Linked DNA regions of Homo sapiens. The protein of the gene in region 1 purifies or fractionates together with the protein of each later gene. This does not show direct contact. Each region holds a gene or a part of one and is shown on either strand. Other genes may lie near its edges.

Evidence for each region.
Region 2: the proteins of SPO11 (region 1) and ATF1 purify together in Homo sapiens (co-immunoprecipitation; one large-scale study listed by IntAct). This does not show direct contact.

What each region holds. Positions count from the first base shown.
Region 1 is NC_000020.11:57,341,832-57,344,514, reverse strand, and holds the end of SPO11 (meiotic recombination protein SPO11), read right to left. Parts: intron 1,787-2,683; coding exon 1,675-1,786; exon of another isoform or gene 1,175-1,674; coding exon 1,055-1,174; 3' UTR 522-1,054; downstream 1-521. UniProt on the Homo sapiens protein: Component of a topoisomerase 6 complex specifically required for meiotic recombination. Together with TOP6BL, mediates DNA cleavage that forms the double-strand breaks (DSB) that initiate meiotic recombination.
Region 2 is NC_000012.12:50,808,779-50,812,615, forward strand, and holds part of ATF1 (cyclic AMP-dependent transcription factor ATF-1), read left to right. Parts: intron 1-677; coding exon 678-811; intron 812-2,842; exon of another isoform or gene 2,843-3,085; intron 3,086-3,837.

The DNA.
Region 1 (2,683 bases):
TTGTGGCTTTGGACAAATAGCATCCTCAGTGTTCTCACCTGAAAACTATGGTGTAGTTACCCAGTAATTACAAGGTCCTTGGGGGAATTAAATGAGATACTGAATCAGCAGTGATTGGCACATGTAAGTTCTCAGAAATGGTATATATTATTATTATTGTTACCATTTCTCTTTATAAAATAGCTAACCTAATATTACCGTGCTTCTATAAATTCTTATTCTTGCTTGCAAGCACAAGAAACTTTCAGTGCAGTTAAAGGTTTACTGAAAGTACAGAATAAAATCATAAAACTGACCTCTGGCAAAATTAAGATAGGTTTATGGAGGGAAAAGGTCACATATTTACTGTTGGAGAAGTACCTTATTAAAATCTGAGGCTTCTGTAGATCTTAAAACTGAAGAAGTTTTTTGTTCTATAGACAGACTAGAGAAGCATTCAAGACCTTCGAGAAACTTTTCAAATAAATAATATTATCAATAAAAAATAGGCTCAATACAAAATAAAGCAAAACACTGAAGACTACATCAATCCAAATATTTATTCATACTGAATTTTACTAATGTAACAAATGAATTAATGGAGTAAGACCCCTAAAGTATAAAGGCAAAGGAAAATGTAAGAAGAAACTACCGGACACCACAATTCATTTGCAACATCTCAAATTCAGATCATTATGATTTTTGTTACCAGTAAGATACTTTATGCGTTAACATTAGTTGTATCGTAGAAGGTAAATATTTTGTAGACTTTGATGACATGTATAAAATATTATTTTTTCAAAAATAATTTAAAGGTCAAAATAACATATTCTTTTATAATTTGCTTTAGAAGATAGGACAGAAATCTGTCTCTATAGAGGCAAGAATAAGGCCTTGCAAAGAAAATTGGAGTACAGCATTTGTTTTGACAAAAATATATAATTAACGGAAAGTTATTTTATTTCACTTTTACAGAATTAAGAATATAATATATGTTCTTTCCACAATAGTATTTGCCAATCAAAACAAAACTAATGAAAAGCCTCTGGCAATCAGAAGTTCTTCTGATTTATTTTTATATCCATCCTCCAAATTTTAATTTGTTAGGTAAGTACACTCTGGAAAGATAATCTGATGATAGGAAAGTCAAAGCTTGAATTTCTGCCTTCATTTTAGAGTCTGCCATTATTTCCATCTGTCAATAAAAGTAAAATGTACTCATACCAGAGTTCTTAGTTGCATTTCTGTCAATTCAACAAACTAGTAATCTAGAATTGCTTTATTCTCCAAAACCAGGGACAATAGTCTTAAGGGTCAGCCAGAATATTCCAGAGCTGCTACAGCTAAAAATATCTGGAGTGAGAGTACTCTGTATGCTGTCTTCAATAATTAGGGATAGTCTGAAATCTTTATGATTTCTTCTTCCTTTTTTTAATCCCACAAACTATGATACAGCCATCAAGAATGTGTATATAACCATGATAAGGATACAAACAGGCCAGCTCCATTCACTGATCTCATCTATTAGCATTCATATGACTCAATTTCAACAACTATTTACTGCCAAACAACACTTATGTTAGTCGTGTCATATAAAATTTCAAGAGGGATATTTTCAAAATACGATGTGAATAGCCACTACTAAAGTAAAAGACAATTAAACATGCAACACTTGAGTTGTAAAAGGAAACATACTTCTTTTCTCCAAAATGGTTGGCAGGTAACATAAGGTCTCCTCAGGATACTGTCAAGTTTCATTTGGTCCCTTTTTGTCAGTGGAATCAAACTATCTTTAGGTACATTTAATCTGGAAAAAAGTAGGTGAAAAAAATCAGTAAAAAAGTGTTTCTGTAACTTGAATGTCCTGTATTTTGCCTGTATTTATGGTACTACTTCAAGAAACTCAGAAATAAGAAAATTAGTACAGATCTACCTCTTACATCCAGGATTGAAGGGATCTGTCATGTCTTAGACCAGCAAGTTTTCAAGTTCATAGTGGAAGTTTGTGTTTCCACAGTAAGATTCTAAAGTTTTTGTTTTCCTTCATGTCACACTCGTGGGATGATGACAGGATGACAGGAAGACTGATATTGGTTATTAAACAAATGCCAATAGCACTACCATCAGGTATACAGATACCAGGGCAGCTTAATAATGTACATTAAGCCTCTCAGAGCTTCACACTCTTCTGGCAGTGAGCTCCAATATGCATGGCCAACGGCTGAGATTCACTGAGGGACTTTAGGTTCCATTGAGTATTTAATTCTTCATAATTCATTTGAAGATTCTGGGCCATGGAAGTTAGTGTCTCACTTTTATCATTTTACACACACACACACACACTTTTATCACTTTACACACACACAAACACATTCTTACCTATCTAGTTTTAAATTTGAAAAACGTGGAATATAACTTTATCATGGTATGTGTTTTAAAAATAGAACATGAGAGGTCCTGGATTTATGGTGTGGACTACCTTTTGAAGTCACAAATCCTAGATTTCCCAGGAGAGTCTTTTTCAATGTGTCCATAATTATGACCATTTGCCAGGGGCAGTTCTTGGATAGGGGTGACAATTTGATTGAAAGGGAGGCCTGGAGGATTTCCCTTGCAGCCTGGCTTCTGTAGCTACCATAGTGTTTTTCCTTTGATCGTATATTCATTTGGAGTGGCTTTTTAGTGCACTGATAGAATTTATGAG
Region 2 (3,837 bases), on another chromosome or scaffold:
GCCCAGGCTGGAGTGCAGTGGCGCGACCTCGACTCACTGCAACCTCCGCCTCCGGAATTCAAGCGATCCTCCTGCCTCAGCCTCCCAAGTAGCTGGGATTACAGGCGCCTGCCACCATGCCCAGCTAATTTTTGTATTTTTAGTAGAGACAGGGTTTCACCATATTGGCCAGCCTGGTCTCAAACTCCTGACCTTGTGATCCGCTGGTCTCGGCCTCCCAAAATGCTGGGATTACAGGTGTGAGCCACCATGACTGGCCCGATTATTATAACTTTTACCTGAGATTGAAAAAGTTTTAGGAATTTCTTTTTGTGGCCGGGCATGGTGGCACATGCCTGTAATCCCAGCACTTTGGGAAGAGGAGATGAGTGGATCACTTGAAGCCAGGAGATCAAGACCAGCCTGGCCAACATGGTGAAACCCCGTGTCTACTGAAAATACAAAAATTAGCTGGGTGTGGTGGCTCACACTTCTGGTCTCAGCTACTTGGGAGGCTGGGGCACAAGACTCTCTTAAGCCAGGGAAGCAGAGGTTGCAGTGAGCCATGATGGCGCCACTGTACTCCAGCCTGGGTGACAAAGCAAGATCTTGTCTCAAAAAAAAAAAAAAAAAAAAAATTATTTTTGTGAAGTCATTCACATTACCAATGTTTAATAGAGTTCTGGTTTTTTTTACAGAAAAATTTTGAAAGACTTATCTTCTGAAGATACACGGGGCAGAAAAGGAGACGGAGAAAATTCTGGAGTTTCTGCTGCTGTCACTTCTATGTCTGTTCCAACTCCCATCTATCAGACTAGCAGCGGACAGTACAGTATGTATAGGAATCAGTTTCCACATTATAAACACACAAAACCTGACTTTTCTGTAGAAAGAAATGGTGTTAGGAAAACTGTAATACTTTGATAGTGATGATTATTAAAGGATGTTTTCAGCCAGGAATAATGCGAAGTACTGTTTCAGCATTATTTACTCCTTATAACAACTTTGTGACATAGGCAATTATCAATGTATGAGGGAACTGAGACCTACAACATTAGATACTGTTTTGTTTTGTTTTGTTTTGTTTTGTTTTGAGACAGAGTCTCGCTCTTGTTGCCCAGGCCGGAGTGCAGTGGCACAATCTTGGCTCACTGCAACCTCTGCCTTCCCGATTCAAGTGATTCTCCTGCCTCAGCCTCCGGAGTAGCTGGGATTACAGGCGTGTGCCACCACGCCCGGCTAATTTTTGTATTTTTAGTAGAGAGGAGGTTTCACCATATTGGCCAGGCTGGTCTCGAACTTTGACCTCAGGTGATCCGTCCACCTTGGCCTCCCAAAGTGCTGGGATTATAGACATGAGCCACTGCGCCTGGCCTTATTTTGTTCATTCTTATATCTATGTAGTTCCGTACATAATTGCTGTATATTATATTAGTATAATTCCTTTCAGAACATTCCTGGCTTTTTTTTTTTTTTTTGAGGTGGAGTTTCGCTCTGTTGCCCAGATTAGAGTGCAGTGCCATGATCTCGGCTCACTGCAACTTCCACCTCCCGGGTTCAAGTGATTCTCCTGCCTCAGCCTCCCAAGTAGCTGGGATTACAGGCGTGTACCACTTCGCTTGGCTAATTTTTGCATTTTTAGTAGAGACGGGGTTTCACCATGTTGGCCAGGCTGGTCTCAAACTCCTCCTGACCTGAAGTGATTCACCCACCTTGGCCTCCCAAAGTGCTGGGATTACAGGCGTGAGCCACCACGCCTGGCCCCTGCCTATTCGTTAAAAATATTTATTGTTTGATTTATATACAGTAAAATTCACTCTTTGGGGAGTTTAAGTCTATGAGTTTTGACAAATGTGTAGAATAGTATAACACCGCCAATCAAGATTGAGTTCTGTCACCCTAACGAATTTACTTGTGCTGCCCATTTGTTATCTCCCCCTCCACTCCTAACATTAATCTGTTTCATTCAGTCTTGCCACAAAATATATGTCCCATCTGACCACCTCTTGCCGTCTCCAACCACCACCGCCTTGGTTTAGGCTCTCATCTTAATTACTGAAGTAGGCATCCAGTTGGTCATCTTGCTTCCATTCTTGCTCTAATAATCAGTTTTCCATACTGTGGCCAAAGTGATTTATTTAAGATGTCAACTAGATCACATCGCTCCTGCCCAAAATCCTCTAGTGACATTTTATCACACTTAGAATAAAATCCGGATCTTACAAGGCATTACATTTAGGATCTGCCTACCACTCTGACCTCATCTCCTGCCACTTGGTGGCATTCTGACCACCCCAGACTTCCTTACTGTACCTCAGACACACGAGCTTGTTTCTGCCTCAGGATCTCTGGAGTTGTCATTGCTCATGCCTGGCATGTTCTTCCCCCAGATCCTTATGTGGCTACTCTGCTTAAGTGTCACCTCCACAAAGAGACCACTCTCTTCAAATATGTGGCTCCTCCCTTTAGTTTCCCTTAACCTCCTATATTTTTCTTTATAGCATTTACATATAACTAAGTCAGTACATATTAGTTTAATTATAGATTGTATGTATGTAATTATAGATTAGCTTATTCATGATCTGTTTTCCCCACTAGAATATAAGATCCTTAAGGGAAAGAACCTTTTGTTTCATTCACAACTACATCCTTGACATATAGGACCTGGCATATAGTAGGCTTTCAGTTGTTTGTTATGAATTAATTAAATAATATATATATAGAATACCTCTTGAGAAACTGGGGGCCAGGCACTGTAGTTCATGTCCGTAATCTCAGTACGTTGAGAGGCTGAGGCTGGAGGATTGCTTGAAGCCACATTCAGGACCAGCCTTGGCAACATAGCAAGACTGTGTCTTCACAGAAAAATGAAGAAAAAAAAAAAAAAAAAAAGCCGGGCATCATGGCATGTGACTAGTCCCATCTACTCGGGAGGCTGAAATGGGATCTCTTGAGTCTGGGAGTTCGAAGTTACCGTGAACCGTGATCGTACCACCGCACTCCAGCCTGGGCAATAGAGCAAGACCAGTCTCAGAAAAAGAAGAAAGAAAGAAAGAAACTGGGAGCAGTGGTTGCAAGGAAAGAAGCTTGGGAGCAGAGATCAGAGGTAGTGGGGAGGTTCACATGTTATCACTGAAATAAGTGTAGTACAAACTAGTATTTAGGGCAACATAGGCCAATAGAACTTCGTATGATAATGGGAATGTTTATATCTGCATTGTCCCAGAATAGTAGCCACTAAACCATGTGTGACTGTTGAGTGCTTGAAATATGGCTGGTGGGACTGAGAAACTGAAATTTTAATTTTGTTTAATTTTAGTTAATTTAAATAGCCACATGGAGCTAATACCCTATCAGACAGCTCAGTTTTAGAATAAATACAGCACATTAACAGGTAAATACACATGTTAAGAACAGGAAGATATGTTGCAAAAATGAAAATATGTATTCACACATATTTAATATCAAAACATTTGCATCTACAGGTATGTATTTTGATATATTAGGTTGGTGTAAAAGAAATTGCAGTTTTCACCACTGAACATAATGGCAAAAGTATATAAGTCTGTATAAGCACAGGAAAATAATGGGAAGGATGTGCACCAAAAACAATAATTATCTCAGGATGGCGGTAAAAGGGGGAAAATGAAATAGAGATAGATAATGGGACCTTTAATTTTATTTATGTTGATACTTATATAAATAAATGTGTATGTGTATATATGTATATAATAATGTGTTGCAGGGAAGAAGATTGAAACTAATTGCTAATATAACTTCACAGCAAATCTCAGCCTGGCGTGTTGGATCACGCCTGTAATCCCTGCACTTTGGGAGGCCAAAGTGGGAGGATCACTT